Linked DNA regions of Homo sapiens: regions 1, 2, 3, 5 and 6 are each linked to region 4. The links come from fine-mapping of genetic effects on gene expression. A gene starts in region 4. Each other region holds a variant in brackets. All regions are shown on one strand. Distances are from middle to middle.

What was found.
Region 1: its variant is fine-mapped to the expression of MTSS1 in monocytes (TOPMed, PIP 0.99).
Region 2: its variant is fine-mapped to the expression of MTSS1 in whole blood (INTERVAL, PIP 0.92).
Region 3: its variant is fine-mapped to the expression of MTSS1 in thyroid (GTEx, PIP 0.90).
Region 5: its variant is fine-mapped to the expression of MTSS1 in whole blood (TOPMed, PIP above 0.99). The same link has a PIP of 0.9 or more in CD4 T cells, T cells, Th1/17 cells, activated CD8 T cells, activated naive CD4 T cells and blood mononuclear cells.
Region 6: its variant is fine-mapped to the expression of MTSS1 in pancreas (GTEx, PIP above 0.99).

The regions. Positions count from the first base shown.
Region 1 is chr8:124,797,939-124,803,143 of GRCh38, forward strand. No RefSeq gene overlaps it. Among named protein-coding and RNA genes, the nearest start is that of MIR4662A, 21 kb to the right of the region's middle. RefSeq lists enhancers at 391-892, 893-1,392. The variant C/T (reference allele first, on the strand shown) is at 3,124.
Region 2 is chr8:124,784,157-124,789,361 of GRCh38, forward strand. No RefSeq gene overlaps it. Among named protein-coding and RNA genes, the nearest start is that of MIR4662A, 35 kb to the right of the region's middle. The variant C/G (reference allele first, on the strand shown) is at 3,044.
Region 3 is chr8:124,845,662-124,850,866 of GRCh38, forward strand. All of the region lies in intron 1 of LOC105375743 (a long non-coding RNA gene), which reads right to left. Among named protein-coding and RNA genes, the nearest start is that of MIR4662B, 26 kb to the left of the region's middle. RefSeq lists enhancers at 2,102-3,301, 2,446-2,740 and a silencer at 2,446-2,740. The variant G/C (reference allele first, on the strand shown) is at 2,493.
Region 4 is chr8:124,725,383-124,730,587 of GRCh38, forward strand. It overlaps MTSS1 (MTSS I-BAR domain containing 1), which reads right to left and starts at 3,091. Exons shown (of 14, transcript NM_014751.6): 1 at 2,502-3,091. The coding sequence starts at 2,573. It overlaps LOC105375741 (a long non-coding RNA gene), which reads left to right and starts at 3,157. Exons shown (of 3, transcript XR_002956670.2): 1 at 3,157-4,684.
Region 5 is chr8:124,561,793-124,566,997 of GRCh38, forward strand. It overlaps MTSS1 (MTSS I-BAR domain containing 1), which reads right to left. Exons shown (of 14, transcript NM_014751.6): 9 at 3,870-3,967; 10 at 990-1,200. Among named protein-coding and RNA genes, the nearest start is that of NDUFB9, 25 kb to the left of the region's middle. RefSeq lists a silencer at 184-273. The variant C/T (reference allele first, on the strand shown) is at 3,077.
Region 6 is chr8:124,759,605-124,764,809 of GRCh38, forward strand. No RefSeq gene overlaps it. Among named protein-coding and RNA genes, the nearest start is that of MTSS1, 34 kb to the left of the region's middle. The variant C/T (reference allele first, on the strand shown) is at 2,693.

The sequences.
Region 1 (5,205 bases), 73 kb after region 4:
AAGTTTATTTGGTTCACTGCTGTGTTCTCTGCACATACAACCATATCTAGAACATGGGAAATGCTCAATAATTGCTCACTAGAGTGAATTACTGAAAAAAGGGAGTCTGAGGTCAGGTTTTCTAGAAGTAGAGCCTAATATGGGCACCTTTGCACAAGAAACTTATCAAAGAAGGGCTTTCAGAAGAAAGAGAGTGAGAGCAAGTCCTAAGGAAGGATGTGGTCTCAGTCAGAGGCCAGTCTCAGCCAGACCCCCAGGGGGCTCTGGGGTGGGGATTCTCCACAGGCTCGCTGCCTCCTTGAGGCCCCTCTGTTACTCATTGGCTCCAAGTGGTTGGGACGGACGGGAGTGTGTAACCTCCCAGGAGGATGTCTCCTGATGACTGAGGGCAATTCTCCAGAGAAAGGGGCAGCTGTGAGCATCATTCACAGCATTCAGGCATGGGTGCACCCATCTGCACAGGAGATCTGGATGGGGCACCAACAGCATGCATGACAAATAGAGACATACTTGGTGTGCATGAGTTATAACCAGACACTGCCAATGCCCCTTCCATTGGAAAGTTCTGTGATCTTAGGATGTCTATAGGAAACAAGTCCAAGAAGGAGCACAATTCTTTCATCTTGTGGGATTTTTATTAGACAACACAGAAGCTGGAAAGTTAATAGCCCGCATCTCTGAGTAGCCTGGGCCTTGGCATGTCTTCTCAAGCCTGAAGTGCCTGCTGGTGTGGCCTTAGCACCCTGGGGGCCCCCAAACAGCAGATTCCACCCTCCAGGTTCCCTCTTCTCTGGAAGAAAGATAGCCCTCTCACTCTCTTTCTCTCCCTGTCCCACAGGTGCCTCTCTCAGTGGTGGCCTGGCAGCCTCCACCAAAGAATGTCACTGGCCTGAGGCCCGGCCTCAGACAAAAGCCCTTTGGAGCTAAGCCTACATCCTCTGTCTGACAGGACCCTGCCCGCCTCCCTCACCACCAACTAGGGAGGGCAGCTAAATTCATCCTCCTCGAAAGGATGGATTCCACAGAGCAAGGCCGCCTCCCTACTCAGGAAGTAAAACCACTCCGAACCCTTGATCTCTGCCCTTGGCTCCTGGACAAATAACTGACTGTCCTCACACAGAGGGCCCCGTAGCCCCGAGAGCAGAGGCAGAGAGGCCTGCAGACACGTGTGCACTGGGGGCTGCAAGGAGGGAGCCCAATGCCAAAAACAAAACACAAAGCCCTGAGTCCCAAACAAATCTTCACACCCAACTCAACTCTGATCAGGGCTGGGAATGAAACTGACTCGAGTTTGAATTCCTGGCTCTGCTATTTACTAACAGTGCACCCCCACGCCAGTCATTCCCTGAAACTCAGTTTTCACAATTTTCAAATAGAGAGAATAGTATTTACTCTATAATTACATGTTTTGAGGGTTAAATGAGATAACATAAAATCTTGGTACAAAGGCTGGTACTTTTTCAGCAAACCAGTCTTCTAATACCATCCTATTCCTTTGAGCACCTAAAGCCCCTTGATGGGAGATCCAACATTTAACCTGCTTGGAATCTTGCAGATGTGTCCAAATGCCCTCCTTACTCAAGCTCACTGATGCTGTTCTTTCTTACCCTGCCTCCTCAGGCCAAGTCTCAACCTCTTTGTGATTCTACCTGTTCCTTCTGGAGCTCTGCATGGCTGGCTTCTGGAAGGCCATCAGCTGTGATCTCACCTGGACCCAAAACTACAGCTCCCACTCACTGCCCATCATATGAGCCACTGAAAGTCCTGGCGTGGTGTTGGAGGAGCTGTTTCCTGATTGCAGAGTATCTAGAATGGAAGGCCTGTCGTGATGGGATTTTGTTGGCAGGTTGTCTTCCAGATGGCTATGAAGACAATTTTGCTTTATGCTGCCCAATTCTGGTTGCTTCCTCTCCTAGGAAATGAGAGCCTTCATGGTGGACATGGCCTTAAAGACCAACACTGTTGTTTTATGGCTAAAAAGATGGACATACAGATCGGTGAAATGCCTACAAAACTAGAATGCTACCCAGGCCCAGAGGCAGCTGTCTGAACATAACCATGGAGAGGAGAGTTTCCCCTTCCTGGAGCACCCTCTTCCCTTCCCTTCCCAGCACCCTCCTTCCCTGCTTCTCCATCTGTTGTCACCTTTCCCCTCTGTACTGGATTGAACAGTGTGCCCCAAAAATTCATGTTCACCTGGAACCTCAGCATTTGACCTTATCTGGAAATAGGATCTCTGCAGATGTAACTCAGTTAACGTGAGGTCATACTGGATTAAGATGAACCATAATCCAGGCTGGGTGCAGTGGCTTATGCCTGTAATCCCAGCACTTTGGGAGGCTGAGGCGGGAGGATCACCTGAGGTTGGGAGTTTGAGACCAGCCTGACCAACATGGAGAAACCCCGTCTCTACTGAAAATACAAAATTAGCCGGGCATGGTGGTGCATGCTGGTAGTCCCAGCTACTTGGGAGGCTGAGGCAGGAGAATCACTTGAACTCGGGAGGCGGAGTTTGCGGTAAGCCAAAATCGCGCCATTGTGCTCCAGCCTGGGCAACAAGAGCAAAACTCCATCTCAAAAAAAAAAAAAAAGATGAACCATAATCCAATAACTGGCATCTTTACAAGAAGAGAGAAATTTAGACACAAACACACAGTGGAAAGTGGTCACATGAAGACAGAGGCAGAGATTAGAGTTCTACGCCACAAACCAAGGAATGCCATACATTGACATCAACCATTAAAGGCAAAGAAGAGACAAGGAAAAATTGTTCTCTAGAGCCTTTGGAGAGAGCATGGCCCTGCCGAAACCTTGATTCCAGACCCCAACCTCCAGAACAGTGAGAGAATACATTTCTGTCGTTTTAAGCCATTCAGTTAGTGGTGCTTTGTTACAACAGCCACAGGAAACCTGCACCCTCTTGTCTTGTGCTCTCCTCCATCCCTCCCTTGGTGGAAGAAGAATAGACTCCTAAGACACACGAATTTACACAAACACATTAGGATCAAGGGCCCACAGCTTCAGTATTTGCATTTTATAGGATGACTTCCACTAAAGGTAACGAAGTGGAAGCAGGACTGGAAATTCTCACAAATGGAGGCCTAGTTACAGCTCTGCAAATCA[C/T]CCTTACAAAAAAATGTATCATCACCTCCATTTGATAGATGCAAAAGCCAGGGCTCAAAGAGGCATGAGCAAAGGGGGCAGGGTTGTGTGGTGGCTAAGAGTGTAGCCTGTGGCCCCATGGTCAGCCTGTGTCCAGATCCTGGGTACTCTACTTCATAACTGGCCATATGAACTTAGGCAAGTCAATTTAACTTCTCTGGGCCTTGGTTGCCTCATCTGTAGAATGAGGATAATAATAATAAAATCTATCTCTAAGATAGATGGGAGGTAAAACCTATCTCTAAGATAGATGGGTACCATGGGTACCATGCTCACTACCTGAATGAAAGGATTAATGGTACCCCCAAACCTCAGTATCACACAATATACCATTATAACAAACCTGCACCTATACCCCCAAATCTAAAATAAAAACTGAAAAGAAGTTTTAAAAAAGTAAAAACAGAAAAAAATGGAGCTATGTGTATTACTGGAAGGTTCTGGTAATTTACCTATTGTGGCTCAGCTACACATCTCTTTGCTCTTTCAACCCTGCAATACTTCTGTAACCACCCCCCTGTATTAAATTCCTTCTGGCTGAAATACCTAGTGTAGTTTCTATAGTCCTGCCTGGAGCCTGACCCATCCATGGGGTACTCAACCTGGACCAGCAAGTCAGCAAAGGCATCTCTGAAGAAATATATTTAAGAGCTCAGACCTGAAGGATCAGTAAGAGTTATTCAGGGGATATAACTCTGTCTGTTTGGAAGACAGGAAATAAAGGAACTTATAAATACAGTCTCTGAAGCAGAAACAGAGAAGTCCTATATGGCAAAAGTAAGTGCTCTAGAAGAATGGAGGGGGGTAAGTAAGGGTCAATCATGCAGGGCCTTGGAAAGACACAAAGCATTAAAGAATACTAGGTTGGAGAATGACACAAATAACTGTATTATAATAAGGATAAGAGGCAGTTATCTTCCCAAGTCTATAAAATCTTTCTGGGGTTGAACTGTTCTCATCGTATGTGGCAGTTCACTCCACAGCTGGAATTCTTTCTATCAGAAGGAGTGTAAACCCAGAGACAGTTATCGAACATGGGGTTTTTGTGTAAATAACAATAACAAAAAAAGGTGCTTTTTCAAGGTAGATGTAACCCCACTGCATGGTTTGGCTAAAGGAAAGCATCTTTCTAAAAAGAATAAATTATGCTTCCTTCTGGCAAAAGCAGCCCAAATGTCTCTGTGCAATGCATAAAATGCACAGCCACAGTGGCAGCCTTTGGAGTCAGGCAGACTCGAATTTAAATGTCATCTCTACTTGCCATCTTGAGCATTCACCCTAACGTCTTCAAGTTTCTATTGCCTCATCTGAAAATTGAGGCCTAACAATGTGTGTCTTATACAGCTCTGGCAAGAGTTAAATTAGGTGATACTTGCAAAACATCCAGTTCAGTTCCTGGTGCCTAATAGGTTTTTAAAAGTGATCACTTTAATTGCCAGCAAGTCTTGTTATTTTGAGTCAAAATCAACCTCCTTGTAACTTCCACTTCAGTAGAGTTGCCCTCAAATTACTTGATTTCCTCTTCCACATGAGAATATTTCTGCCATTTGAAAATAGCTCTCATACCCTTTCTTTGGGATGATTTTATGCTCTTGTTGGTGCCCGGATCAATTCTTAAGCTGTCCTCCCCATCCTGCCCACCAAAGCTCAAGCCTCAACTTTTCTCCTAGCCAGGTCCTCTTTTTGATTCACCAACAATCAAACTAATTGGCTCTCTGGGTTTGTTACATTGACTACACTGGTTTCAAATGTTAATATTTATTATCTTATCTCTTTGATGGTTTTCTTGACATGGCAGGTGCTTCAGATGGAAGTTCGATGTGGCTGTCAGGTTTGAAAGAGCATGTGTTTCCAAGAGTTGGCTTGAACAGGGACACAGAAAGCAAATTTCCATGTTGTGTCATATTCTGTCATCCTGTGATTACTCACCAGGGCCTCTTCCCTTCTCCACCTCCTCTGGAACCACATAACACATGAAGAGAGAAATGGACAGTGACTTAGATCATAAACAGCATTCTCTAGCTCCTGGCTGGGCTTAGCAAT
Region 2 (5,205 bases), 59 kb after region 4:
TATAGGTGCACACCATTATATCTTCCTTTTTTTTGTAGAGATGAAGTCTCACTATGTTGCCCAGGGTGGTCTCAAACTCCTGGGCTCAAGCAATCCTCCTGCCTTGGCCTCCTAAAATGTTGGGATTACAGGCATGAGCCATTGTGTCTGGCCCTTATTCATGCTTTCTAGCTATTTTTCTGTACCTAGTAACCATCTCCACTTCCCGCTAGCATTTCCCCCTCTACCCTTCTCAGCCTCTGGTAGCCACCCTTCTAGTCTCTATCTCCATGAGTTCAAATGTTATAATTGTTAGCTCTCGCAAACAAGTGAGAATATGTGAAGTTTGTCTTTCTGTGCCTGACTTATCCCCTTAATAACTTCCAGTTCCATCCATGTTGTTGCAAATTACAGGATCTCGTTAGTTTCTACATCTTAAAATGGAGATCTGAATATCCTCTTTACAGGTTGTTCTGAAGTATTTTAGAGATAAAACACTTAACACTCCTAGGACAGTACCTCTTATGTGGAACCTCCTTTCCCCTTGCTGTGTGTTTCCATGTGGAGGGACATCGATGCATGTAACACTCCTGGCTCCTTTCTGGTCCTGTGCTCAGGATTCCGCAAGGAGGAATTACCTCCTTGGCAAATTTGGGAGTAGGAAATGGGCATAGGTACACCTGCCTCCTATCTACGTTTCCTTTGGAATTCAGCTGCCACCAGAAGCACACATTCTGCCCGGCTCCTCCATACGTTATGTGTTTCTGGGGAGGCACACTACATGGGAAGGTCAGCATTTTTCCACTACTGCCCAGTACCAGGTGCAAGTCAGGCTGATTCTGGTCAGCAGAAGCCTGTTGTTGCCTTAAACCTCACCTGAGCTCTCCAATGCTGTCTCTCCCATTTTGTTCTCCACCTGCCAGACTCCTCTCTTATTTTAAATGGTTTGGAACAGGGTGGGGACTACAAGAAGGTGGTGATGGGTATCCTTTAGAAACCTGCTCTAATCTCAACATGTTCCACATCAGGCTTTCAATAAATAGGAACTGTCATTTGCACCAAAAGTAAACTTCTTGTATTTGTAGTGCTGACTCTGCCCCTTCTATGTCCTCTCTTAGGCAACTCCCTCAGCGCTCCCCACCCCGAGCTGATGTTCTTTCCCACCACTCCCAAGACACTTCCTAGCAGTGTTGACCGGAGCTCAGTCATCAGCAAGTGTCTTGCTGGGACACTTCCTTAAGCCCTGCCCCAGAAAAGTAAACTTCCCTTTCCAAGAAGCAAGATACATATTCCTTTTGATGGAAGTTTTTTATGGTAGGTTCTCAGCTCCTTGTTCTTTGTAGACGTAGACTCTCTGGTGCATCTATAAGGCGCTCTGCTTGCTTTCCTGTTAATATGAGAACATGGAGGTGATAGAAGGGTTACTTTTCAGAACTCAAAGGGGCTTCCCTGCTAATCTCCACTGTTTGTAAAAATGTGAGATTTAGCCAAAGCAGTAGTGCTAATAGTTAATTAACTAGCAGGAGAACCATGGAGCAGTGGGATTTAAATACCCATGTGCACACCTGCACTCCCCTTTTAAATTCCCCAAGATCCTGCATTTGGAAAATGACATGGAGGAAACCCATAGCAACCTTTATGTGGATTGAGGTATTATAAGTGATTTTGAACTTCTTCAGATATCTCGATGTTTTAAAATAAATTTTCTACGATGAGTATGTTTTAATTTTAAAATCAAAAGAAAAAGGGATTAAACATAAAACTCACCTGAAAAAACATATGATTTGGAGAGATGCAAAATAATTCCAGAGCCTTTGATAATGCTTATGGGGTACCTAGTATGTACGAGGCACTGTGCCATTTGCTGTGGAGAGGGCAAGGTGTGTAAAACACGGTCCTTGCCCTGAAAGGGATGAGGCAACATGAACAACTACCTCCTGAATTTGTAAGTTGCAGTGGTTGAGCTAGGGTGATCTGCAAGGATGCGGGTGTGACTTATAGGTAGTGTCTGTTTAGCTCAACAAATTTTTACGGAGGATCTATGTGGCAGGTCCTGTCTTAGATGTTGAGATATGTTCATCCATAGAAACAGAAAGAAAATTGGTGGTTACCAGGAGCTGGGGGGAGGGGGAAATGGAGACCTGACTGCTTAACGGGTACGGAGGTTATTTGGGTCGGGGGTGATGGAAGAGGTGGTGGTTGCACAACACTGTGAATGTACTAAACGCCACTGAATTGAACACTTTGCAATGGTTAATTTGATGTGTTAGAAGGGCGGAAACTTGATCCTATGTGAACCCCCCTAGTTATCATCTGTCTCCTGAATGACCCACGTGTCCTGAATGTCAGTCCATATTCACTGTTTGTGCTCCTTTGCTCCTGTTCACTCTGAACTTACTGTAATCTGGCTTCTTTGTCCCCATCACTTCCCTGAAGCCACTACTAACTACATAATTATCAAATCCAATGACCATTTTTAAATTCTTTTAATAGTCCTTATCGGACTAATACACCCAAGTACGCTTTGGGCATCTCCACTTACATGTCCAATTCCAGAGGCCTCACTTTTTCATCTGTAAAATAAAAAAGGACCCATCTCATAGGGCTGTTGTGAGGATTGAGCACAGTGGTATGCTGGTCAGTGTTTAACAACCAGCTCTGAGGACAGAGGACTCCTGATTCATAGTATTTGCTGATTTCTGTGGTGCAAATTCTCCCACTAAGGCAGATTTCAAGGAACCAATGTAACACTATTGCATGTGGAATTAGATATGGGAACCATTATATCTTGCTTGCACCGTGCAGATACAGTGGACATTATCTGAGCCTGGATAACAGTGGAGGGTAGTAAAATAATTAGGAACTGCCGGGCGCAGTGGCTCATGCCTGTAATCCCAGCACTTTGGGAGGCTCAGGCAGGCGGATCACCTGAGGTCAGGAGTTCAAGACCAGCCTGACCAACATGGAGAAACCCCATCTCTACTAAAAATACAAAATTAGCTGGGTGTGGTGACGCACACCTGTAATCCCAGCTACTCAGGAGGCAGGAGAATCACTTGAACCC[C/G]GGAGGCGGAGAATGCGGTGAGCTGAGATCGTGCCATTGCACTCCAGCCTGGTCAACAAGAGCGAAATTCTGTCTCAAAAAAAAATAATAATAATAATTAGGAAGTGATGAGTTTCTATTATATTTGTTTATAATCCAACGTGTTTAATTGTGAGTATATATAATTTGATTTTTAATAATTGCTGTGTTTAGTGACTGGCTTGCAAAATTCTTGAAAATTTAATAATCGGCTCTTGCAAGCCAGTCCAAGCTGGCTCCAGGTACTGTTGAATGAACTACAGCTTGTACCCGGCTTAAGAGAGAACTCAGCATATGTAAAGTGCTCTCTAAATGGTAGCCAATGTGATTCTTGTCATTTGTTTTATTACACAATTTGTGACTGTTTTAGAAAAGTCAGGAAAGACACATTTTAAATGCACCTTTGTATGATTTTTAGGGTCGCATTATTTAACCGAGGAACATGGACTTGAGGGATGCCCGTGCAACATGGTTTACTCATAAAATTACTGTGTTTGGCATAAATTCAGAACTGAGAGCTGGAAAAGAACTAAAAAACTTTGAGTTAAAAAGTATAAAAATTTCAACTTACTGTAGTATTGCAGGTGAGCGCAGGAAGTTGGAGGCAGCTCTTCACCAGGGGCTGGAGAAGTAACAGGAAGGATCACAGTGGGTGGTGCTGTGCAGTGGTCAGAAACAGCAACCTGGAGTGCTGTCATGCACTGCAAAATGACGTGCTGGGTCAACAACGGACCCGTGTGCCACGGTGGTCCCATTAGATTACGATGGAGCTGAAAAAGTCCACCTAGTGACGTAGCCACAGTACATAGTGCAAGACATTACTTGTGCGTAGTGATGCTGCTGTAAACAAACCTACTGTGCTGCCAGTGGTATACAACAGAGCAATACAATCATGTGCAGTACAGAATACTTGATCATGATAGTAAACAACTATGTTACTGGTTCGTGTATTTACTATACTTATTATTGTTATTTTAGAGAGCACTCCTTCTTCTTATACAAAAAAGGTAATGGTAAAACATCTTCAGACAGGTTCTTCAGGAGGTGTCCTGAAGAAGGTGTTGTTATTATAAATGACAGCTCCATGCGTGTTATTGTCCCTGAAGCCCTTCCAGTGGGACAAGTCGTGGGGGCGGAAGACAGTGATATAGATGGTTCTGACCCCACGTAGGTCTAGGCTAACATGTGTGTTTGTCTCTTAGTCTTTAACAAAAAGTTTTAAAAAGTAAAACAATTCTTAGAAGTAGGGAAAATCTTATAAAATAAAAATATAAAGAAAGGAAATATTTTTGTACAGCTGTTCAATGTGTTTGTGTTTTAAGCTAAGTGTTAATACAAGAGTCAAAAAGTCTACAGTAGTGGACAGTAATGTCCTAGACCTTCACATTCATTCACCACTCACTTGCTGACTCACCCAGAGCAGCTTCCAGTCTTGCCTGCTCCATTCATGGTAAGTGCCCTACGTAGGTGTACCATTTTTTGTTATTTTTATACTGTATTTTTACTGTAGCTTTTCTGTGGTTAGATACACAATAGTTACCATTGTGTTACAATTGTCTATGTTATTCAGTACAGTAAACTGCTGTACAGATTTGTAACCTGGGACCAATAGGCTAGACTATATAGCCTAGGTGTATAGTAGGCTAGACAATCTAGGTTTGTGTAAGTACACACTATGGTGTTCACACAAGGATGAAATTGCCTAATAATGCATTTCTCAGAGCAGATCCCCGTTGTTAAGCAACACTTGACTATATGTATATTCCTGTATTTGTCTGTTCTCACACAGCTAATAAAGACATACCCGAGACTGGGTAATGTATAAAGAAAAGAGGTTTAATGGACTCACAGTTCCACATGGCTGGGGAGGGCTCACAATCACGGTGGAAGGAAAGGGAAAGCAAGACATGCCTTTCATGGTGGCAGGCAAGAGGGTGTGTGCATGGAAACTCCCCTTTATAAAACTACCAGATCTCCTGAGACTTATTCACTATCCCAAGAACAGCATGGGAAAAACCCGCCCCCATGATTCAATTACCTCCCACCAGGTACCTCCCACAACACGTAGGAATCATGGGAGCTGCAATTCAAGATGAGATTTGGGTGGGGACACGGCCAAACCGTGTCAGTACCCTTGTAAGATA
Region 3 (5,205 bases), 120 kb after region 4:
GGATGGCTGGGTCAAGTGGTATTTCTACTTCTCACAGTAGCTATGTTTTATAAAGTCACTACAAGCACTGAATTAGTGAATACTGAACCATTGATCCTACAGTAAATATAGGTTGAGGTTCCTGTGAGCCTCTAGTTCCATCAATCAATACGTAGCCTTGTTTTATGTGTGTTCTTGTTTAAAGACACCTTACTTAATACACATTGTTGATCCATTGACATTGAATTCAATACCAATAGCAATACAAGATGCTTGAGTGAATATGACCTAATACTCACATTTCCTCTGTGAGGCACAACACAGCCTTCTCATGCTCATGAATGCTAGGCAGCACTTAAGCACTATGCTTGGGGCCATTTGAAACAAGCAGTGACACCATCAACAAAAATCTTGAAAATGTGGGCCAGGCACAGTGGCTCATGCCTGTAATCCCCCAGCACTTTGGGAGGCTGAGGTGGGTGGATCCCTTGAGGTCAGGAGTTTGAGACCAGCCTGGCCAACATGGTGAAACCCCATCTCTACTAAAAACACAAAAATCAGCCAGATGTGGTGGCACATCCCTGTGGTCCCAACTATTCGGGAGGCTGAGATGAGAGAATCTCTTGAACCCGGCAGGCGGAGGCTGCAGTGAGCTGAAAAAAAAAATTTTCTATATGTTTTTCTCTTCTTTGTTTCTTTCTTTCTTTTTTTTTTAACTCTCTCTCTCTGTTGCCCAGGCTGGAGTGCAATGTGTGATCTCGGCACACTGTGACCTCCATCTCCCAGGTTCAAATGATTCTCCTGCCTCAGCCTCCCCAGTAGCTGGGACTACAGGTGCATGCCACCACACCAGGCTAATTTTTATATTTTTAGTAGAGATGGGTTTTCATCATGTTGGTCAGGCTGGTCTCAAACTTCTGATCTTGTGATCCACCTGCCTTGGCCTCCCAAAGTGCTGGGATTACAGGCATGAGCCACCATGCCCAGCCTAAATGTTTTTCACCAAATTGTTTTATAAATGTTTGGCACTAAACTGACCATGAAAAGGACACTTGTTTGAGAGCATGAGAGCAGAAACAGGAAGGCAAAGTGTCTCCTTGTTGGATCTCAGCTGGGGATGGGTGCATTGGGTGACTCAAATCTTTTGCAGCTCTGCATGTGTCTGCAAATGACCTTGAGGTTTAAGTGATGATTTTGGAGTTATAAATACATTTTAGGGATTAGACAAATTCACACATACAGAACCTGCAAATAATGAGGATAGACTGTGCCCACATACACGCACGTTCAAATTATATGAAATGCTGTGGAGGAAAATAGCAGCATATTTTCAAAGACAAGAGAGAACCCCTTCCTTAGGTGGCACGGTCAGGGAGGCCACAAAAACGGTGGCATTTCAAGTCAAGGCTTAAGGGATAGAGAGGAACCAGGAGCACAGGGGAGAGGTTTACCAGCAGAAGGGGCAGCTCGTACAGTCCCAGTGGGAGGAAGGACAGCTGCACTTGCGAGGTGAAGTGGGAGTGTGAAGAACAAGACGGGAGAACAAGTATGGAATGCAAGAGGCAAGTCAGGCAAGGGCCTGAGTGGGTCAGGGAGAGCCTGGGAAGATCCTGGGTTTGGATTCCTTTCAAGGTGCAACGGGAAGCTTTGGCGTGTGTTGGGCAGGAGAGTGAAATGTCCTAGGTAGAGTTAAGGTTTTCTCTAGCTGCCCCATGGATTTGCCAGGGCAGGGTCTGTTTCCCTCAGCTGGCTCATCTGAGAAATAAATGTGTGATACTCTCAAATCCTTCTTTGGATTTAGAGAGAGGTATAAGTAAATGCCAAGTCCCATGTTACGGTGTGGTAATACTTGTTTGGTCCACTCATAATGGCATTTATTTTTTAAATCAGATCTACTGGGACTATAATGCTTCAAACCACGGGAGTAAGCCTTGCATGTGACCACTTCAGCTTCCACAGCAGGAAAAGGGAGGGAGATATTTTTAGAAGGGAGACCTCTCAGTGCCCCCTAAACCAGGCCGGAGGCACTGCCTGGCCCCAGAGGACCGTTGGCCTTGCCTATCAGCTTTCATCGTGGAGGAGGCGTGGGTGGACCGAGGTACCACAAGTTGCCAGGAATGCCTGACCAGAAACTGCTCTTGGGTGGGTCCCAGAGCTGCCTCCCCTTCACTTGACCCTAGGGCTGCTGGCTTCCTGGCCTTGTGAAATCTTCTAGAGGCAGGAAGAAGCCTGAGCGCTCCCTGACGCCACTTGAGTTTGACTTCATGGGTTTGCCGTGTGCCCCTGAACAAACCAGTTATCCTCTCTATGCCTTATTTCGGTATGCCCATCTAACACTAATTACCACCCCTCCCTGACTGCCCCCAAACCTTACCAGAAGAAATGGCATGAAGTTACGGAGACACTTTGAACTCATTGGCAAATTGTGCACTGTGAGGGGAAAGCACTGTGGCGGCCATTTTCTTTTCTTCCTTGAGAAAGTCCCTTGCTAATCATTAAGACTGGCTGAGTAA[G/C]CTTGTTCCTTTACATTTGGTGAGTAAGAAAGCCCCTCATGCTACCTCATCATATGTTCTTCCTCTTTTTCATGGCTTATCAACACTCCCTTCTGTAGGACATGCTGAGGAATTAGTATGAGTCAAAAGGAAGAATGACAAATAGGTGGTATTTCTGGTCTGGAGTTTGGAGGGCAAGTTCAGTCCAAAAGTTAGCTGCTTCAACCATCATGAAAGGTACAGAAACTCTAGGATGAATACACTTAGTATTTTTTATTATTTATTTATTTATTTTTTAGACGGAGTCTCACTCTGTCTGTCCCCCAGGCTGGAGTGCAGTAGTGCAATCTCGGCTCACTGCAACCCCCACCTCCCGGGTTGAAGCAATTCTCCTGCTTCAGCCTCTCAAGTAGCTGAGATTACAGTACACTTTGTACTTTAATATGCAAACTGCCTGCCTGCTCCAGAGAAGCAGCCTTTGTTCCTCAGTTCATCGCAACACTCAGCCTGTCAGTCAGGTTGTGGGATCCCTCCTATCCAGGAACTGTATGCTGTTGTCCCGGTTCTGACACTTTCCCTCTGAGTCCTTGGACACCTTACCTAACCTCTTGGAAGCTCCTGTCTGTGAAGGGTGTGCACAGAGAGCTTCGGTAGCCTGCGAAGCAGCCATTTTCACTTCCACGGAGCAGGTATTTTATTGCATTATTTCGAGCTCAAGGACTCCAGAATTAGATCCCCAAAATATGCCTGAGAAACATTTACTCCCCAGGAGCTCAAACTAAATAATGAAAACCATTGAAAACAACCAGGCAGCCCATGTCCTGAAGTCACCTTTTCCTGGGAGGTCCAGGAGAGTTTTTCCTACTTTCCCTGAGTTATCCTTCCCTTTCCTTCCCTTCCCTTTCTTCCCCAGAGGGCGATGCATGTTAATCAAGGAGCCTGCATTTGCGCAGGTATAGACAATTACACATTTACTGGGTCAGTTGCACCTGGGGGGGACGCCAATCTGTAAAGCAGAACCAAACCTCTTGCCTTCAGTCCTCAGAAGTTCTTCTGGTTAAAATCATCTAAAAAGTTGTTTCAAGTCTCCAGAACAGCTGAGATCAGCAAAAATAAATGAAGCTTCTTCTGTGTGGGTGCAGATGCTGGCCTGGGTGCTGGAATATGGAAATGAGGAAGATCCTGCCTGAGGATTTCATGACAGGTGAGGGGGAGAGAGGCCTGAGGAAGTTACCACCGGGGAAGGTGACAAGTGCAGTGATAGGATAAATACGAAGTGCAAAGAGAAGACAGACAAGAAGTTCAGCTAGCTAAGAAATGTGTTAATAACACCTTGATCAATCATTCCTCCACTTTTTTTTTCTTTTGAGAGTCTCATTCTGTCACCCCACCCAGAGTGCAGTGGCAGGAACACAACTCATTGCTACTTCAACTTTCTGGGCTCAAGCGATCCTCCTGCCTCAGCCTCCTGTGTAGCTGGGGCCACGTGTATTGCACCACCAAGCCTGGCTTATTTTTTAATTTCTTTTGTAAAGACAGGGTCTCACTATGTTGCCCAGACTGGTTTCAAACTCTTGGACTTAAGCAATCCTCTCATCTTTGCCTCCCAAAGTGCTGCGATTACCGACGTGAGCCACTGTGCCCAGCCTCACTTTAAAAAAAAAAAAAGGTTATGAAGCATCTCAACACAAGACCTCCTTTGCTCATCACAACCACCCAGTGAAGCAGGCAAGACAACAGAAACTCCCCACCTGTGATAGATGTGAGGCCTGAAGTCTCCCACATACCCACGGCAGATGCAACGCACAGCGGTGACCAATGGTAGGGATAACAAGTATTGCTTCCGCCCATTCAGTACTTCTTGCATGCCAGATCTGTGCTAAGTGCTAGATGAACACAGTCTCTTTTCATTCTCATAGCTCTTTAAAACAGGTATTGTTTTCTTTTAAAACAAATTGTTTTGTTAAATATAAATATCATGTACCTTATATATATATTATATATAAAAATACATGTAATTTACCATTTTAACCATTTCAAAATGTCCAGTTCAGGAGCATTAAGTACAGTCACATTGTTGTGCTACTGTCACTACACCATCCACAGAATTCTTCCTCTTTCCAAACTGAAATTCTACGCACTTTAAACAATAACGCCCTATTCCCCCCTCCCTCCAGTCTCTGGCACCCACCATTTTGCTTTCTGTCTTTGTGAAGTTGACCACTCCAGCTATATCATATAGTATTTGTCTTTTTGTGACTGCTTTATTTCAATTAGCATAATATCCTCAAGGTTCTTCTATGTTGTAGCATATACTGGAATTTCCTTGTGTGTGTGTGTATGAACCTCTATAAAGGATCCTTCCTTTTTAAGGTTGAACAATATTCCATGTATGTATATATCCAGTTTTGCTTATCTGTTCATCTGTCAATGAACACTTGGATTGTTGCCACATTTTAGTTATTGGGAATAATTTTGGCTATTGTGAATAATCTGTACACATGAGTGTACAGATATTTCTTTGATAAAATAGGTAAATAAAATTGCTTTATAAAGAAAAGCAATTTATTTCTCACAGTTCTGGAAGCTGGGAAGTCCAAGATCAAGGTGCTGGCATCTGGTGAGGGCCTTCTTGCTGCATTATTCCACAGTGGAAGGCAGAGGATTACAAGAGCGAGCAAGAGAGGACTGGCCTCACCTTTATAACAACTCACTCTTGCAATAACCCATTCCT
Region 4 (5,205 bases):
GAGGAAATTGACTCCCTTCCTGTGCTGCTGTACATTTTGAAGAATCAAATGCTACTAATAAAACCATTTTCCTTATCCTTTTCTCACCCAGCCTAACATCACTTCTGAGAAAATAACCTAAAAATTTTTATCAAGATGGCATTCCAAATGGGTTTCCGACATTTACGCTTTTCCCTCAGAGCAAACAGATAGGAGACCAAAGGCATTATAAACCCATTATGGGAGTTTAAAGAAGAGAACAAGAGGATAAGCAGGTCATTAGAAAGTCAGTTGATTTCAGATATTAAAAACTGACTTTTGTTGCTGGTGACTTCATGCATCTGCACACTATATACTGCTTATCAGATCTGTTCAAATTTAAAAATTTTTAATTTCCATTTAAAATGTCACTGTCATCTAATCCATGATGAAGTCTTTTAAGAAGCAAAGTCCAAGAAAATATTCAAGAATTGTCTTATGCATAAACAATCTTGGAAATCAGACATTCCCTCTCTCTTCATCTCTCGAGTCTCCAAAAGTCTAAAACTCTGCAGAACCCAAGGCATGTTTTAGTCTTCCATTCCACCTTGCTTTTAAAATTTTACTGCCAAAACAAACAAACCAAAAAAAAAAAACTTTAAAATAAATGATTTCCCATAGGATACTGAACAAACCTACTAAACTCAAACCGAAAGAAGTCAGGATACACAAACTCTAGATTCCGCCGTGACTGGGCATTAAAGAAAATGTCTTTATTTTTAACTGGAACCATGCAGGGGAAAAAACACCACCTTGGCACCCGTGAGTCCCCAGCCAGGGCATAGTGCCACGCAGCCACAGGATGGCAGGTGGAAAGCAGGACAGCCCACCCTTTGGGCAGGTCACCTTCTGAACGGCTTTCGATTCAAACAGTGAATGGGAAGAACCGAGCCTGGATTCTGGATTAAAGAACAAAGAGAAAAAACTCCAGATGTGATCACTCCAGGACTACAGTGGACAGATCCGTCAGTGTGCACTGGGGGCAACAGAATGAAAGGGGCTGTCTTTCAACAGGGAATAATCCATCTAATTCCAAGTGCCTGGACTATAAGCATTCCTGGGCAAGCAGAGTCTGGCTGCAGATTATGCTATGCTAAGGACAATTTGTGACAAAAGGCACGAGAGCTGTAGAAAGATTTCAAAATGGACAAAACCAGGACAGAGGCAGCTTGATAAAGTTCACCCTGGGTGAGGTGGCAGTTGGTTCTGAAAGGTGGAAGCAGGCCATGACAGCTGAGCATTCCTTCCCAAAGACCATCTCCGAGGCACGAAGCCTCTCTAAACCTTACACTTCATCAGACAAAAGCTCCTCCAGGCGCCCAGGCAGCGGCTGAAGAGGGGCTGTCCACACCCACTCGGTGCACAGCTTTCCAAACCTGCCCACTCGTTTTGGAAGCGAGCTTTTAATTAAACACCACCTCCCCGGATCTGGATCTGTTGAGGCAAACTGGGGCTGGGCCAGAGCCAAAGAGAAGCTCCCTAAATACACATTAAAAAAATAATTTCCCCCACCGCTCCCAATTCCCACCTCCAGCCAGCTCGCGCGGCTGGTTTTATTTCCTCTGGATGAATAACACGGGGCCCTGGTCTATCTCTAGGCACCAGAAAATCCACATCCGAGGATCAGGTTATCCCCAGTCCCACCCTTTGCAGGAAAAAACCAGGGTGTTGTTCCCCGCCCCCACGCGCGCGCGCGCACACACACATGCACGCGCGCACACACACACCATCTTCACAACCCTTCCAAGAGAAAACCTAGAGTGTGTGTCCGTTTGGGTCTGGGAGGGCAGGATACAGTTATTTCGGGGGCCCCAATCTTGCCTTTAGGCTCAGCTGGGAGAAGGCGGGGCCCCTGCAAGGCTGCCCGGGAACTTCGGCCCCGCGCCCCGCGGGAGGGCTAAGAGAGGGCACGCACACCTTTACCAGCTTCGGAACGGCCCAATTAATAACTAATTTGCTCAGATACCCCACTCCAAGTAGACCTGACAGCCAAGGAGGGACTGGCTTTCCCTCTCAGTCTCCTAGGCTAGGGGACTCCTTCCTGCGAGCGGGCAGAGCCCCCACTTCCTCCCCACCACCGCGCCAGGCGCCCCCACCCCGTGCCCGGAGGAATCAGGTGTCCTCCCGGGCATCCAGCCCCCGCGGGTCCCAGACACTTACTTCAGGGACAGACAATGGGAAAACTTGCAGCCAGTGCCTTGAGCCCCCGAGGGAAAGAAATGGTGCCGCCCCCTGGGACAATGAGCGGGGGAGATGGCGTGGGACAGCAGACACCCCCCAGAGAAGCCACCCGCCCAGTGACCCCGCAGAGCCCGGAGCAGCGCCCCGGGTGAGCAGGTGACACTCCGGCCGGGAGCTCCCGCAGGTGGCCGGTGGCCACACTGCAGGGAAGGGCCGGGTGCCCGGCCCGGGGTGGAGGCGAAGCGCGGCGGCGAGGTCAGAGCGCGGCGGCCGGCGCCGCAGCCGCACCCCCGGCGTCCTACCTTCATGTCGCTGATGATGGTCTGGAAGAGGCCTCCGAGCGCGCTGCATTCCTTCTCAATCACAGCCTCCATTTTCCCGGCTCCGGCAGGGCGAGGGCACACACGCGGGGCCGCTGGACTGCGCGCGGGGCCGGGGCTCGCTCACCCCAGAAGGAATTTCACCTTCCGAGAGACCCACCTCGGACTCGCAGCCTCTTCTGCAGCGAGGACGGGGTGCACCAGACCGACTGTTCTCTGCCCAAAATAATAACAGTAATTTAAAAAGCCAAACCGCTCTGTAGGGTATTCGCCTACAAGCAGCGCTCGGCTCCTGGCCTTAAAAATGCCGGGAGAAGACTGACAATCAGGCCACCACTGGTGCCCACTACGGAAACGGCAAAGCCCATCTTGATGCAGAGAAAATCGCCCGCTGACCCGGGGCCAGCGCCATTGAAAAACGCAAGATTTTCCAATTTAATAAATTTTTCTGCAATTAAAAAAAAATCGCCCAACAGCAGAGCGGGTCAGCTCGCGGCGTCCGGATCTGTTGCTCGCAGCTGCGGCCGCCGCCTCCTTTTCACTCCTGCGCGCCCGGCCCCGGCGCTCGCTCTGGCTGGGCTCCCGGGGACGTTCGGAGGGGCGCACGCGCGCTCGCGGCCGTGCCCGCCAAGCGGAGGCGCGCTCTCGCGGCCGTGCGGCCGCCGCACGCGGGCGGGGCTGGGAGCGCGCGCCCGAGAGGCGCGTGGGGCACCCGCCGCAAAGAGGAGCCTGCTGGTCTGCTGGCGGGCAGGCGGCGCTGGGCCGGAGCCTCTCCCTCCGGTGCGCACAGCGCACCCTCTCCTCCCCCGGCCGCCCGTCGCAGCGCGGAGAGGGCGTGTCGGCACCCTGCCTGGCGAGCGCCCACCCCTACAATGGCTGCGAGCGCGCGGGACGGAGGGTGCACCGCCGCTCCCCGGGGACTTGCACGGGTGGCGCGCCTAGCCCAGAGCCCGCTTGTAGTGAGCGCTCAGTAGGGCGGGAAAGCTGCTGCCGCTACTGCGGCCTTCTGAGAAGACGCCCATTCTCTGATGTCAGGACTGCATCGCCGAGTCCTGATTGCAAATAGCGAAATATATAATTAAGGAGAGTTCGGGGGCGTATCCTGCAATGGGATGCCGAGTTCGATAAAGTTGCAGGATGCTGGGAAAGTGGATTGATTTGCTGTTGCTAAATGAATGGAAACAGCGTTAGAGCTTCTGTCCACGATCCATCAGTCTATCGAGATTGCTGATTGCCTATGACTTGGACGGTTGATGGTTTTCAGGCCCACTGAGAGCAGCCAGCGTTGGTATAACCGCAGGGAGCCCTCCTGGGAGGTTGAACCTGCAGAGCGCAAATGTGCCCAGGTTGATTTGGGGCCTAGTGGTCCATTTTCACAGCTCCACTGCCTATCTGCATAACCAGGAGCCCTCATTCAGATGAACGCCAAATGGGCCAGAGGGAGGAGAATCAAATGAGCAACTTTTAAAAGATATTAAGACATAGGCACCTAACTCCGGACAGTTCCTTTAACCCTTGAGCTAACCATTTGAAGCACAAAACATAACAAAAGAAAAGACTGGGGGGAGTGGGGCCAAAAGAAACCAAGTGCAAAATTCTGTACACTTGTGTCAGATTCACTCCGTAATGGGAAAAGGTCTGGCTTTGAAAACTTTATGGATCAAAGGGATGCATGGAGTTACACAGCACAGCTGCAGAAGATAATGTTCCCCTGGATCACTCTGCCCAACTCTTAACTGCAACCCACCTTCCCCATCCGTCTCCCCGAAATCACCCGGAAGGGTGTTACCTTCAGGAAGTAACTGATCTCTTGATCACCCCTGCTGGATCCTGTCCCCAAGGGCGTTCGAATGCATCCGACTCATCTTCACCTTGCCAATAACGGGTGCTTGACACATCGTTTGCTGCCAATCATTATTGTGATTTTAATACTATTGGTATTCTAACTATCAAGATGACTGCTTGTAGAGCCAGATTGCCTGGATTCAAACTCCAGTTCACAACCTACTAACTGTATGCCTTTAGGTATGTTACTTAACCTTTCTGGGCCTCAGTTTCCTCATCCATCTGTAAATGGGGATAATGATGGCTTCTACCTGATAGGGCTGTTCTGAACATTACATGAGCTGATCGATGAAAGCACTTCAAGTGGTACCTGGCATCTCGTAAGTAATCATTCGATAAATCTTATCAACAGAAGAAGCAGGGATGAGGCCAAGGCTCAGGTCCAGCCCTGGCCCCATTTCACTTCTGTAACATTGGTGTGCTGTCCCAGGCACATTGCTGAGGGTCTACTGTGTGCATTCTGGGCATTTTATACGTATTATGTCTACTTGAAGGAAATTATCATTCTGGTCCTTGTTGCACTGTTGGAAGGAATCCAACCCTGGTTTTCTGACTTCCATGCCCCAGGTCTCTCTTTTACCCAGCCTCCTGAACTCCTGGGATAAGGGGCCTTAGCCCAGTGGACACTTGGTCTAGCTTTCCTGCCACATGCTTAAATTTCAATGCCCCAAATACCCCAACTTTAGCAATGTTTGCCAAAGCATACCTCTCTTGTGGCCTTTTTCCCTGGGCCTGACCACCAGGCCCTTGTCTCTCATGAGAACTCCTTGAAAGGGAGGCTGGAAAAGTGTTCCCAGATGCAGGAAAGTGGGAGTGACACCTGGCAATTTTTTTTTTTTTT
Region 5 (5,205 bases), 160 kb before region 4:
GCTCCTTACAGACCAAGCCAAGCACCCCAGGTGGGACACGCACTCTCAAGCACTCTCAAACTATAGCCGTGGCTCTTGGCTCTGAGTGCGTTTAAAATTGAGTGTGTATCCAAGGAAGGCAGACAGAGGCCACAGTCCCCAGGATGGCTGAAAAATGCTAATGGGAGCGCTGAGCTGTGAGGAGAGGAACGCAGAGCTCTGACATGGGTTTCCCAGCAGGTGGGGCTGTGGGGCACCCAGCATTCTGTATGTAGAGCTACTTGCCAAGTTCAAGGCCGACACCAACCCAATGACACTAAGGGAGAGAGGACAGAGAGAGGATCACATACATTGATGATGCACATGAAGAGTGTTCAGATGCCCTGGCCAGCTCCTGCGTTCTGCTCCAGCTGGAACCACTGGGCTGGGCTGGGCCTAGCACCATTAAACCCAGCTGTAGTTGAAGAGATTCTGCCACACCTTCCCTTCCAGAATCTAAGTGCCAACAGAATTATGTGCAGAAGCTCTGATGATTCATTCTCATTCTCAACACAGATTGATAAAAGGAACCTGAGAGCGCCAAGGGATGGTATCGGAAGCGCTATTCAACCATAGAATCTCAGCCATTCAGGGAGAACCTGAGATGTGGGGGAGGAGGTGTCCCCATTGTGCAATGCCCTTTAATTATAGCATTTAATTATGCCAAGCTGGGCACTTACAGGGACGCCTGAGAGTGGTCAAACCTCTTTCAATCCATCTACTTACGTGAGAGCTCCCCAAATCGATGTGGTAATGCAACCATTACCACCATGGAGACAGGCTTCAAACCCACTTATAGCACCTCTCCCTTTAGGGGAACAATACATCTAAAGATGAGAAATTAAACCAGAGGTTTCTCAAGTCAGTGGGCAGGGGATTGTCTAAGCCAAGGTGCTTCTTTGGTTCTGGCCACTGACAGTGGTCAGGACACCAGGTGTGACAGCTGCTCCTGGAGCCAAGGGCACCCTTACCTGGTTGGGGGCCTCTGGCGGCATGGGGGATGGTGACTTGGACTGGAAGGCATCCTGGGATATGAATCCTGAGTCATGGGAGGACACGCTGGACAGCCTCACAGGAGCCTGCTGGGCCAGGTTGGAGCTGCGGTAGCGGTAATGTGAGCTGGGGGAATGCGAGTGGGAGCCGCTGGACCGGGAGTCACTGCTGTTGACACTGTTCAGGCTGCTGTGGAGGACAAGCAGGGGTGAGGGGTGGGCACGGAAGGTAAAGAAAGGGGAGCAGTGGTAAGAGGAAGGAGGAAGGAGGGGAACAGATGAGGCAGAAGAGAGAGAAGCACAACATAATGCAATTAGCTCTCTGCCCTGGAGATGCAGTGCAAACCACAAAACACGTTTTCAAAACACCAAATCATGAAGGTAGTCAACAAAATGCTTTTCCAGGTGACCCAGGGGGAAATACAGCTGCCAGGACTCAGGTCTCCGATGGTAACCATGTGGCATTCTTACGAGGGAGGTCTGGGGTTCTAAAACGTCAAGTGCGCCCAACTCTGCTGCTTCGCCTACCACCAAAACGAGGGGAGCTGATGTCAGTAGCAAGAAAAGGGACAGGGTTAATCTGCCTGCAGGAACCATGAGCCTGCAGCAAAAGTCCACTGGGGCTTCAGCATGACTGGAATGTTCTTGGATGGACCATCTGGGTCCACATGACCAAGGCCAACCCAGCTAAGCACTGCCGATGGATTTGCTGAGGTGATTTCATCCTAGCTGAGTCTGGTCAAGCCCGCTGTCAAGAACATCAGCAAATCAACTCACTATGTTGGTGTGCATATGTTTTACCTTTTAACAAAGTGATGCTTTAATTAATGTTTTTACTCTGACCCCAGCTGTTTCTGTGTTAAAATATCTGTGGGTCTGGCACAATAGCACACTTGGCAAGAGGCAGGCAGCTTTCAGCGACTAAGGGCAATCAATGCTCAGCTGTTTGCTCTTGAAATGGCACAGTAAACAGGATGTCAAATAATGACACACCCGCTCTGGATTTCTGTCTGCCTTCCATCTCCACTCAAAAGAAACATGCTCCTGGCCAGGTGCGGTGGCTTACGCCTGTAATCCCAACACTTCAGAAGGCCAAAGCGGGTGGATCACCTGAAGTCAGGAGTTCAAGACTAGCCTGGCCAATACGGTGAAACCCCGCCTCTGATAAAAATACAAAACTTAGCCAGGCATGGTGGCAGGCACCTATAATCGCAGCTACTTGGGAGGCCAAGGCAGGAGAATCACTTGAACCCAGGAGGCAGAAGTTGCAGCGAGCTGAGATTATGCCACTGCACTCCACCTGGACAACAGAACGAGACCCGATCTCAAAAAAAAAAAAAAAAAAAAAATGCTCCACACTCTGTATAGTAACTTAGATCATAAAAAGCAGAAAACAGACTCCCATGGTCCAAACAAACGGAGCTGAAATAAAAAGAGCAGTTGTAGAGGCAGCAGCAGGGATGAAGTAAATAACTAGGGCTGGGATAGGAAAAGTCATGGTTTCTGCTCCTAAGCCTGCAAGAGACTCTGGCTTGCAAAATCTGGCAGCTAATAAGGTACTCAAGGGCCGCGTGACTGTTCTACACTAGAATTACTTGGTGCAAATGTTCAGACAGACATAGGGGAGCGTGCTGGAGGAAATCGCTGCAGTGAGGAATAAATATCATGATTTTTGACTTTCCCCTCCAGTCAGCCAGAAGGCGGCAGTTGGGGACCGACAGTAAAGCTCACAGCAACTCCACCCCGGCAGCCTCAGAGTTGCAGATGTCAGTGCAACATGGTTTTCTACTCAAACTAAAATTATAAGGAAGAAAAAAACAGCCACGCAACTTTGTTTTACACTAATGAGAGATTTTTCTTGGCAACAATAAAAAGGTCTCTCTTTCACTCACACACACACACACACACACACACACAGTCGACAGAAGATAAGAAACAAACCAATATCTTCAGGGGGCAGAATGTCCAGGATGCAGCGTCTTAGGTCTGAACTTCCTGCTAAGTGTGTAGTGTACAAGCTCCGCAGTGAAAGGAAATAGGCATCAGCGTGCACCAAAACATCACCA[C/T]AGACAGATTGAGCAGATACATCCTGCCCTCTACTCTCAGTGCTAATACACAGGAAGTGGAAACTCATTTGGCTTTGAAAGTTAAATTAAAAGAGTAACAGGACTACTATACCAAGAGAGATAGATGGTACATCATGCTTCCATCTTTCAAGGAGAGGAAAAGAAACTTTCCTACTCGGCAAGCCAAGAACTGACTTCTAACAGAAAATTGCTAGACAACAGTTTTGCAGATGGCAGAACTATTCCAACAGATTTTGTTCCAATAGGGAACAGTACTAATTAATACAGGTGTGGTCGTGGTAGTGGTGGTAGTAGTAGCAGTGACTGACAGAGCAAGAACTCTATTTACTTTATGAAACCCTGAAACAAAAATATGGGGTGAAATGAGGGCATAAGCCATTGTTACTTCCTTCGTTTGTTCTGGCAACAGTGAGATCAGCCTGTGTAAAAATCAACCCAGGTTCACCATTTTTTAGGCCTTAGAAGGTTTTCACTCTGCTAAACAGGAAAATCAAATGTGATCTCATAGAATAGGAAAATCCCTACAACATACAAGTGAGAGAGAATAAGCTACATCCACAAGTCAAGGGCTAATGGGGTTTTCTTTCTGATCCAAAATTAATCCAGAGACTAAAGAGCAAGACCAAAATTATTACCATTCTTTCAGCTCATCATCCCATTTCCTGTTTGAGAATGAGCCATTCTAAGAGATAAGGACTGGCTCCATTGCTCACATTAGCATAAAGAAAAATGACCCGTCCTGAAAGCAAGAGTGGACCCCGGCTTCACTCACCTGCAGACACTGGACTTTCTGGACATGGTGGTGCTGGGGGAAGAGGGTGGCGTCTGATACGACCAGCTGTAATCAGAACCTTTCAAGTCCAGAATCACCTAAGGGGACAGAGCCAGCTGGGTGAATGAGGTGCTGAGAGGGGAAGCGTTAGCCATCAAAGCTTAACATCCACCAAAGCATCAAAACGCTGCCATCGTGGGGGTGGGAATGAAAGCAAAACATGTTAAAAAAATTTTTTTTAAATTGAAGAGCCACAGTACCAAATCCATCAATATCATAATCCTTTTACTGAGAAAGTAAAACTATAATTAATAGGGAGAAGGAAAGGAAGGGAAAAGGAAAATCATGAAATATCAGTCGAGAGAGGGAGAAATACAGTGACCAATTAATAATTTATAACAGCCATTTATACCCAAGGCTAGAATTTACAGGATTTTCCTCTTGTAATGCCATAAAGTTAATCATGGTTCCCAGACTTGTTGGTAGCGCATTTTAACCACTTGATATTCAGTGGTCATTTCTGCCCTATTTGACCAGCACTAGAAATTTTAAAGCCTGACAGAATCAAGAACAAGCCAATTCTTTCACCATTATTTCTATATCTGTCTCCGTTGCTTGACAAAGGACCACATGAGTATAAGGTCCACCTTTCATTCACATAAGAAGCACTCAGTAAATGTTTATTTGTCAAGTGAATGCATGCATGCTCTGGTCTAATAAATATAATTTGATAGAATAGAAAACATGAGCTCCCAAATTTGCCCTCTGAGCCAGCTCTCCAAGGAGACGAAAAGATTGTTACCAAGCACAAAAGCCAGCATGTGATTCATCAGTTCCCCCAAATATGTCTCTTCCCATAGTGTGCGTGTGATGTGAATTAAATGAATAAAGCATAAAAATGTCATCTTTTTCATAAGATGAGAGAGCTCTCCATGCATTGCTCAATTAGAATGGGAGAAATGGAGAATGGTTGACAGTGTCAATCAAAACACACCAGCGACGTGTTCTTAGGAGGGTTGACTTCTAGAGGGCAGATGAACACAGCAATTAAGTGCATGGGATCTGGAACCTGACCAACTTGGTTCAAATATCAGTTCCACTACCTGCTAGCTAGCTGAACCTGGCTAAGTGACTCCATCTCTCAGTGCCTCTGCATCATTCTCTATAAAACAAGCATAATCATGAAGATGAATGGAGGAAGTCAGGCTATGTAAAGAGCTTGGGACAGTGCCTGACACACAATAGGTTCTATGTAACAGCTCGCTGTGGTGATTTCATATATTACATCATGAAGGACGTGGTGAATATGACTACAATTTAAGACGTGACACATGCC
Region 6 (5,205 bases), 34 kb after region 4:
TCCCAGATACCTTACACAGGAGACGGCAAACTGAAATCTGAAATGGTGTCTATACTCCATCTCTTGGGAAATTGACCAGTATAATTTATTTTTATTTATTTATTTATTTTGAGACAGGGTCTCACACTGTCACCCAGGCTGGAGGGCAGTGGCATGATCTCGACTCACTGCAATCTCTGCCTGCTGGGGTCAAGCCATTCTCTTGCCTCAGCCTCCCGAGTAGCTGCGATTACAGGCACCTGCCACCATGCCCAGCTGATTTTTGTATTTTTAGTAGAGACGGGGTTTCACCATGTTGGCCAGGCTGATCTAGAACTCCTGACCTCAGGCGATCCACCGGCCTGGTCCTCTCAAAGTGCTGGGATTACAGGTGTGAGCCACCATGTCCAGCCAAGACCAGTATAATTTAGTTCTCCAGAAATAAATTACTTTGGAATGACCCCTGAAAACCAGTCTTCAAAGTCAAGGCTGGATTTGTGGAAATTCCCAACCCCGATGTCAGCACCAAAAAATGTAGCTGAGAATAGCCTGATTCCCCCAACCCCCTTCAACAATTCAAATTTTATCCTCTGCGTTTGGCAGAAGTTAAATAACAGTTTGCCATTGCAGAGCAAAAAGTTCACTATCAACCCATCTCTGCAACCCCTTGAAAGGTATAAACACCTGAACACTGGCAGTCCCACCTGGCCCATAATCACGGTAGTAGCACTTTGGCCTAGTAATAAACATCCAACTCTTAGCCTTTTTATTACACTGCTCTTTCAAAGAAGCATTTAGCTAATGTTATCAGAGAGAGGGGCCTGTTTCCCCTCAGAATGCCTCTGAGGAGTACCTTTTTATTGCCCAGGGGTGGAACATTCTCAGCTTCAGCTGTAAATCATAGAGTTGCCAACTTTTATTGAGCTCTTTGCAGGGACCAGGCCATGGGCTCAGGGCTCAGGGCTCAGGGCTCAGGTCTTTCCTGATTCTCTCATTTCATCCCCACAGTCACCCTATGAAGTAGGTGTTATTATTCTCATTTTACAGATAAGGAAACTGAGTCAGAGCTGTTAAGTAACTTGCCCAAGATTACATAACTAGTAAGTGGCAAAGCCAGGACTCGAACTCACACCCCAGGGTATCTGACTGCTAACCTGTTGTATTAGTCCATTCTCATGCAACTAATGAAGACATACTCGAGGCTGGGTAATGTATAAAGGAGAGAGGTTTAATTGACTTACAGTTCCACATGGCTGGGGAGGCCTCACAATCATGGTGGAAGGTGAAACGAACGTCTTACATGGCAGCAGGCAAGAGGGCATGTGTAGGGGAACTCCCCTTTATAAAACCATCAGATCTCTTGAGACTTATTCACTATCATGTGAACAGCATGGGAAGAACCCGCCTCCATGATTCTGTTACCTCCTACCTGGTCCCTCCCACAACACGTGGGGATTATACAATTCAAGGTGAGATTTGGGTGGGGACCCAGAGCCAAACCATATCACCCGTGTTGCTAACTCTCACACCATACTCCCTTAGCCTTGTGTGATGAGCTCTGGACTAGGTGCTGGGCACAAAGACCTGGGGACCGAGCCTCGTCTTTTTTGTGGGCGTTTATGCTTTTCTATGTTCACTGAGTGCTTACTGTGTGGTCAACACCATGCCCAACAGTTTTTATTGATTTATATGCATTTTCTAATTTAATCCTTAAAGCAAACCTATGAGGAAGTACTATTGCCCCTACTGTCTTTGTGAGAAGGTCAAGCTACTCACTCAAGGAGAAGGTAGGATTCCAAGTGCAAGTTTGCATGACTCTGAAGCTTGTTCTCACCCAGTGGACCACCCTTACTGGAATCTAGCAGTGTAGACAGAAATGCAGATTCCTGGGTCAAACGCTGGATCTACTGAATCACAGTCTCTCGCAGTGGGGCCAAGAAATCTGCTTTTCTGCCAAATATCCCAGATGGGCGCAGTGTGTGTTATGTTTAGAACTCACTTCTCTATCATGATGCTGGCAATGTAGACATTCCATGTTTTGAAAATTCATGGATTGTACGTTTCTGATTTATGTACTTTCCTTTATCAATCTTATATCTTAAAAAGTTTGCTTAAAAAGTCCCCTCCCATGTAGGACACAGTCTCTTCACTATGAACACTTTGCTTCTTTGCTAGTCTATCTCACACGTCATCACACTGTTAAATTTCCAACTGTAATTCGCATGGGACACCACGGCGCACTGGGCCTGAAAAACCAGGCTATGAGAATGTCCTGGAATCACCTCCTTCCTACCTTAACGCAATCACACAAAGGTTACCGGCAGTTCTCATTTTCTTTTCTCCAGATAATTCCTCCAAAATAGATTACCCAAGTGCCTCACTCTGAAAACTTCCATCGTGTTCTCTCAACCCTGAAACCCAAATCAGTACAAAACGGTCCCTTGGGGCCATCCCTCTTGACTAATTCTCAAAGTTTCCACCACCAAGTTGTGGGGTGGTACCGGGAACTTCTCCTTTTGGGCTTATTTGGCCCATGAATCACTCTTTGACTAACCTCGTCAGCTGTTGTTTTCCCCGCAACACTCGGTGAGTGTTTTTCCTCCTCTTCCACCTTCCTTGTCTTCTTTTGGAACCTCTGTAGAACCTTACAACAGAAATATCTCTTAATCTTCAACCTCTATTGATTCATCCACTCATTTATTCTTTCACTTAC[C/T]TATTTACAGACATTTATTAAGCATCCACATGTACCAGGAACTCTGCTAGGGGCAAGAATTTAGAAAATAAACAAGAATGTGGGCCCTTTCCTCAGGGAACACAGTGTTTCCAAGTCACTTTTGACAAATACTTCTGGAGCTGACTCTTTTAATAATAATGGTCTTGCTGTTGATGATATTTTTGAGCCTTTTCTTCATGGCAGAACCTCTAATAGTTATTTTAGATGTATTGCTTAATATTCTCAACAACTTCATGAGGTAGGTACCACTATTGTCTCCAAATAATACAGATGAGGGAATCGAGGCCCAGAGAAGTCGTATCACTTTCCCAAGATCACACAGTTCATAAGGGCTGAATTCTAGAGCTAATCTGGAGTCTGACCCCAGAGACAGGCCTTTTTAATTACCACAGGCTCTCTGAGCCCTACAAACCATCCAATGAGAAGTGTCAGAAGTGCAAGGAAAATAGACAAAAGAGAGAAGAAGAAAGATGTTAAACAAGACTCTGGTGAGAACATAATTTTACCCTGGTTGACTCTGGATATAAGGGCATCTGAAAAGCACATTGGCTATAAAAGTGTGTTTCCAACAGTCCTAGAGCCATCCTTTCTAAAAGATAACATGTTCCCCAAACCATAGAACCATAAAATCTCAGTGTTGGGCAGGATCTTGATGTGGTATAACCCAAATCCCACTACATGCTGAATCTCTTTACAATCTCATCATCAAATCTGAAACCTGTCAGCCCTTGGCTTCCATTCATCTGCGTAAGTTCTGAGTTGTGGGAAAGTAATGGCAAAAACTGCAATTACTTTTGCACCAACCTAATAGCTTGATAGTGGTAATCATTTCCCAATGTATATGTGGAATATGATGAGGTTTCTCTTCAAATAATCTAATCAATCTTTTATTCTTTAATTTATAATAACGCCCCCCCCCCCACCTTTTTTTCCTTTTTCTCCTTTTTTTCCTTTTTGCATTTGTTAGATGCCCAGGCACGCCACAGGACAGGCATTATCAGTACCAGCTCACGTTCCTTTCCTTATTTAAAAAGAAGACTAACTTTCTAGCTCATTACACACACCCCTTCCCCTTCCTCTCCACTTTCTTTTACGTGCCCACCTTACCTAAAAAAATTCAAACGTTTAGCCAACTGGGATTATTTTAAATTATACAGCCTGACCCCAGCCAATGGGGAAAGAGTGCAGGGGCAAGACTTGCCGTCAAAAATAAAGGCTCTCGTGCCCTTTGTTCAGGTGGGCTCTCATGGCGACTAGCCAAGGAGGCACCCCTCTGCCCAAAAATAAAATTGCTTTGCTAAAAATCCTTTGTTCAAGTGTTCAATTTCCTTAAAATTTTTTAGCGTTATTCCTAACACATACATATTTCAAAAATCACATTCTACAACTTGAATATATACAGTTTTTGCTGTTTAGATTTCAGTAAAGCTAGGAACAAATGTTATGCTCTTTGGGATTTCTCACGTTCTTTGATTCATATGTCTATACCTGAGTCAAATTCACTTGTTCATCAGTTAAATCACAAAATACTATGTCATGGATCTTCCACATCCTCAGAAATACCACAAGTGGCAGGGGCTTCAATTCACACAGGCCAACAGTTGTCTCCTTCAAGGATCTCAGGTGCAAATGTCTTTGGGGTCAGTCAAGTTACATGAAAGAATGAAGTAGGCAGGGGGTAAGAACCGTGATGAACCAAACAGCACGCCTTCTGGACAATGATTGCCATGTGGTACTATAGGCTCCGTATTGCCAGATCTTTCAATTTGTCAAGAGAAGCCAGAAATCTAATTTTTTTTTAAATGTAAACTTTTCTGATTTTTAAGTGTTGAAAACAAATTCCAATTTTTTTTTTTTTTTTGAGGTGAAGTCTTGCTTGGTTGCCCAGGCTGGAGTACAGTGGCGCAATCTCGGCTCACTGCAACCTCCCGGGTTCAAGCAATTCTCCTGCCTCAGCCTCCCAAGTACTTGGGATTACAGGTGCCTGCCACCATGCCCAGCTAATTTTTCAATTCCAAATTTTAAAATCTGGTGTAGGCCACCATGACGTGGGCCACATTGGATCCCCAGTTGGCCGGTGTGACCTCTCATCTGTGGCACTTGGCTGATGTGAAGCCTTGGGAAGGGACAGTTGGAGGAAAACATGCAGAAGTGAGAATTGATGCTGAGGTGGCAAGCAAGAAGCAGAGTTGGGATTGACAGTTAGGAGAAGTATACTGGAAGGAAGAAAGCCAGAGGGAAGAAGGGAGTTTCCGGGATCCTTGAATTATATGGAATCATTACACAGAATTGTTCAGAGACAGTCTGAATTACGTTCCAAGTTTGCAGAAGTCTCAGAGATAGAAGGAGACCACCACCAGGAAAGAATTTAGATTCCCCCTTTTTAACTTCTTTGATTACATGGCAATATTGCTCATTTGTGCCATGTATAATATAGTGTGTATATATAGATATGTATGCACACATGGTAGTGAACATATATGTATATAAAT